Regions from separate parts of the Homo sapiens genome. Here region 1 is linked to region 2. A link means that fine-mapping ties the variant in region 2 to the expression of a gene that starts in the linked region. Tissue or cell type: fibroblasts. Region 2 holds a variant in brackets; the other region holds the start of a gene. All regions are shown on one strand. Distances are between the middles of the regions.

Evidence for each region. PIP is the estimated chance that this variant, and not a neighbour inherited with it, causes the effect.
Region 1: NEIL2 starts here. The variant in region 2 is fine-mapped to the expression of NEIL2 in fibroblasts (GTEx, PIP 0.94).

Annotation. Positions count from the first base shown.
Region 1 is chr8:11,768,741-11,771,240 of GRCh38, reverse strand. NEIL2 (nei like DNA glycosylase 2) reads right to left here and starts at 1,531. Exons shown (of 5, transcript NM_145043.4): 1 at 906-1,531. LOC124901888 (a long non-coding RNA gene) reads left to right here. Exons shown (of 2, transcript XR_007060824.1): 1 at 1-363; 2 at 833-2,439. RefSeq lists silencers at 1,141-1,270, 1,311-1,720 and an enhancer at 881-1,381.
Region 2 is chr8:11,454,173-11,456,968 of GRCh38, reverse strand. All of the region lies in intron 1 of FAM167A (family with sequence similarity 167 member A), which reads left to right. Among named protein-coding and RNA genes, the nearest start is that of FAM167A, 11 kb to the left of the region's middle. RefSeq lists a silencer at 62-161. The variant C/ACACC (reference allele first, on the strand shown) is at 1,333.

The DNA of each region.
Region 1 (2,500 bases), 310 kb before region 2:
AGGCAGCCCCTCTTACCTTTCTTCATGCAGCAAACACTTATTAAGCACCAACAGTGTGCTAGGCAGCACATCATGGGCACCATCCACTTTATTCCTGAGCGGCACCTGCCACACCAGGAGCTGGCCTTTGTTACTTTTTGCCTGGACTGTGAACCTCTAACACCTCCTGACTTTCTCTGTCCCCCTGCTCCCGCTCTCAAAAAACAGCCATTCTGACCCACTGCTGCCGACTTATTTCCCACTTTTGAAGGGACCAGATGCCGCCCTCCAGGACCGCCGACCACTAGCGTGGGGGAGGTGTGCATGAAACGACCAACACGCAGACAGAGCTCAGAATCATAAGTGAGACCCCCAGCCACGTAGGTAAGCCCGGCATAGCTACAGACAGTTATCTCTGATCCCCGAGAAACAGCTGTGGTTCTGTTCTAATCACCACGCAGGGCTCCCAGGGCCACCTCTACTCTCCCTGCCCCCAAATCATCCCAGTCCACTGACAGCCGCCTACATGAGGCAGTCTGAGTGGTGTACACCCGGGCTGTTCGGGCAGAGGAGACTCCCAGCCTCACCCGGGGCAGCTGCCTAACCACCTGTTCCTGCACCAGCCTCTCTATAAGTTATGATGAAAATCGAAAAGAACTAAGTAGATATCGGGCAGGGGGTAGCTATTATATTTCAGTGATTCTAAAAAACATTTTAGAATACTTTTAAAATCTAAGAAATGGTGACGGCTCACAATCTCGGCATTCTCATATTCGGCAGCAGCACATTCAATAACGCGCATCTTACACTCGCTGGTGCCGATTCGCTGAGATGTACTATTTCCCCTCATCAGGCTTTCCAGACACTCCCCAGGGAATCCTGACAAAACCGCCAGGCTGGAAGGAGACGTGCCAAACGCTGCTGACCTTAACCAGTTGGATGCCTGATCCTCTTCTACGGGGAAGCTTCTGGAAAAGCCTTCATCTGAAATGCACCAAGTCCTGAAAATCTCCGGACACGTGGGCATGTTTCGTTTAGGGATTTTTATGGAGATGGACAGGTGGGAAGCAAGCCGCCTCTGCAACAGCCTTGAAAGATGAGACGCGGAAGGGACTTCGAAGAGTCGCTGAAGATGCCGCGCCCACCCTCCGGCCCTCCCTGCCCGGGGGCTACCGAGGAGCTCGAGGCTGGCGCTGCGCCAGCCAGGGAAGAGGAGGGGTTGTCTCCGCCGTTCTCTTCCGAGTGCCCGAGGTGGGGGGTCTAAGACCACTGCTTTCCCAACTCTGCCTCGGGGTGCGGGGAGAGGGGCGCAGACGCGGGTCTGAGGGTCAGTGGGGGCCTCCAGGCGTGGGCAGCACCTCCGCAGGCGGCTGAGACGGAGGAGGGCCCGGGGCCCGCCCTCCCTTCCTGTCCCCTCCCGACTTCTCCGCCAGGCCGCAGATCTACCGGAGGGCGGGCGGCTGCACTCACCGGCTCCGGGTGGGTGGCACGTCGGCCCGACCCAGCACCGCTACGCAGCCCGCACAGCCGCTCCAGCTGGGGGCGGAGATTTCCCGGCTCGGCGGCCCATGCGGCCTCCGTCCCCTTAGGGGACGCCCCTGTAGGTGGAGGCTGCGGGGCTCCTCCCCCAAGTGGGCGTGGACTCCGGCCTGGAGGGGGTGGCGGGGTGCGCGCAGGCGCAGGGCTCATTCCCTGGAAAGTGGGTCTAGGTCGAGGCTGCTCTTTTGTGGGTGGGCGAGGGGTTCCATCCCGGGGGTCGCTGGAGGCAGGGCTGCATTAGAGGGTCGCGAGTGAAAGCAGGGATGGAAGAAGGGTGCAGGCTGGGACTAACATTGGAGAGACGCTCTTGGAAACTTTTTTTTTTTGCGGGGGGAGATAGTCTCGCTGTGTCACCCAGGCTGGAGTGCAGTGGCGCGATCTCGGCTCACTGCAACCTCCGCCTCCTGGGCTTAAGCCATTCTCCTGCCTCAGCCTCCCGAGTAGCTGGGATTACTGGCGCCCGGCTAATTTTTGTATTTTTAGTAGAGACCGGGTTTCACCATGTTGGCCAGGCTGGTCTTGAACTCCTGATCTCAGGTGAGCCGCCCTCCTCGGCCTCCCAAAGTGGTGGGATTACAGGCGTGAGCCACCGCACCCGGCCCTTTTGGAACATTTCTTGTCTCAAGGAGACAGTTATAGGGAAAAGTCAATGGGTGTGTGAATGGGACAGCCTGGGTGTTCCCACAATGGCAAGCCTTTCTGTGGGTTCTGCTTGGCCTCCGAGCCTAATGAAGTCGGGTGCAAAGGAAACAGGTGTTCAAGACTCGTGAAATGTTGAACGGGTGGGATTTTTTTGCTTTCTATTATTTGAATTTTATTACTTGAATTTTTACTATAAGCAAATTTTGCTTAAAGTATTTGTGTATTAAATTTTTTATTTCATAGAATAAAAGAGATAAAACAATAGGCTGTTTAAAGATACATATGTTTTCTTGTCTTTAGTTCTCGAAGGAGGATGGGGAGCCAGCACTTTCCAGGAAGT
Region 2 (2,796 bases):
CCGCCCACTTCCCTAACCCAGCCCCGCTCATACCCCTAATCCAGCCCCACCCACTTCCCGAACCCAATCCCCCCATTTCCCTAACCCAGGGCCCAACTCACTTCCCTAACTCAGCCCTGCCCACTTCCCTAACCCAGCCCCACCCACGTCCCTAACCCAGCCCCACTCACTTCCCTTAGCCAGCCGCACTCCCCTAATCCAGCACCACCCACGTCCTTCACCCAGCCCCGCCCATGTCTCTTACCCAGCCACACCTACATCCCTAACAGCTCTGCACATGTCACTAACTCAGCCCTAGCCATACCCAGAGCACACACCCAATAGAGCAACCACCTCACACTCGTATATTCACACACCTAGCAGGGCAGCTACCCACACTCTCACACTCATCCACCCAGCAATGCAACCACCCCCCACACTCACACTCACACACCCAGCAGGGCAGCCAGCCCCCACACTCACACTCACACACCCATCAGGGCAACCACCCCCCAAGCACTCACACATACAGCAGGGCAAGTACCCACACTCACACACTCATACACCCAGCAAGGCAACCACCCCCCACACTCACACACACACCAGGCAGGGCAACCACCCCACACACACACCCAGCAGGGCAACCACCCCACACTCACACCCATACACACCCAGCAGGGCAACCACCTCACACTCACACTGATACCCACAAGGCAACCAACCCTTACACTCACACACACAGCAAGGCAACCACCCCCCACACTCACTCACACTCACACAGCAAGGCAACCACCCCCCACATTCACACACACACACAGCAAGGCAACCACCCCCCACATTCACACACACACACAGCAAGGCAACCACCTCCCACATTCACACACACACACAGCAAGGCAACCACCTCCCACACTCACACTCACACACAGCAAGGCAACCACCCCACACTCACACTCATACCCAGCAGGGCAACCACCCTACACTCCCACTCATACCCAGAAGGCAACCACCCCCCACACTCACTCACAGCAAGGCAACCACCCCACATTCACGCACACCCAGCAGGGCAACCACCCCTCACACTCACACTCACACTCTGCAAGGCAACCACCCCACACTCACACTCATACCCATAAGGCAACCAACCCTCACACTCACACTCATACACAGCAAGGCAACCACCCAACACTCACACAACCCCAGCAGGGCAACCACCCCCAATACACTCACACTCATGCACAGCAAGGCAACCACCCCCGACACTCACACACTCATACACCCCGCAGAGCAACCATCCCCCACACCCACACTCACATTCACACACAGCAAGGCAACCACCCCCAACACTCACAC[C/ACACC]CAGCAGAGCAACCACCCTGCACACTCACACTCAGGTGAGGCAACCATCCCACACTCAAACTCAAAGCAAGGCAACCACCCCCCACACTCAGACTCACACACCCAGCAGGGCAACCACCCCACACACTCACACTCACACACCCATCAGGGCAACCACTCCCCACACTCACACATACCCAGCAGAGCAGCCACCCCCCACACTCACACACACCCAGCAGAGCAGCCACCCCCCACACTCACAATCACACTCACGCAAGGCAACCATCCCACACTCACACTCCTCACACTCATACACAGCAAGGCAACCACCCCCCACACTCACACACACCCAGGAGGGTAACCACCCCCCCCAGACACACACAGAGCAAGGCAACCACCACCCACACTCACACAGCAAGGCAACAACCCCACCACAGTCACACACACACACAGAGCAAGGCAACCACCACCCACACTCAGCAAGGCAACAACCCCACCACAGTCACACACACACACACGCACACACACATATCCCAGCAACCCATCCCTGCCACGTGCAGCACTGGGGCCGGGGTCAGGTCTCGGCAGGATGTCATCTCCATGTCAGGGCTCCTGACACCGGCTCTGACCAAGGCTTGGAATGCAGATGAGGCTGGAAAGGCAAGAGATGAGCGCCAGGGCTAGACAGCAGGGTCCCTCCTGCTCAGTTGCCATGGCAACCCCGGAGGAGGAGGGGACCACTAGGGCAGCCTGGCTCCCGGCAGCAGCTCTGTGGGGCCCAGGGCTGTGTCCCTGTCCTCTCGGCTGCCACCTGGTCAGTGCTGAGCCCAGCCAGAGGCCAGCCCAGTCCTGTCTGGTCCTCTGGGTGAGATAAGTGTTGGGTTTCTGATTAAACCCGGGCAGAAAAGCCTGCACACCCCAGGCTCGCCTCCCTAGGCCGACTGTGGAGCCATGTCCCAGACCTCCTAACCTCTTACTCACCCAGAACAAAGGGATTTGCCTTTTCAGAAAACAAAAGGAAAAGATGCAGGCATGAGCTTTGCCCTGCACCACCCTGAATTTTCTGTGTATGAAACCCCTTAGAGCCTCTGCACTCCCTTGGCTGTGGGGCTGGCCTCACTGTTCTCTGGCCTCTGAAGCCACCGCAGGTCCCAGCTCATGGCCCCTGCCTTTGTCTCCGGTTGAAATCAGGGCTGTGCCCTCTACTGATGGGCCTGGCCTGGCTGAAACCGCAACATCAGGGCAAGGTAGAGTGGAGATGCCTCTTCCTGCCACCCCTGCACCAGACAGGTGTTGACGGAGGAATCAGGAGATGCTGTCCTTGAGTGAAGCCACGAGTCTCTCTGATGTGGAGTTTTAGGCTTGGTGACACACACAGCAGGCTCAGCAGAGGAAACAGAGCGCTTTGCACACACACGTGGGCCTCCGCTCTCCAGCCAAGCCCACCCTGGCTTTGGCAGCAGAGCCATGGGCAACCCAGACGGT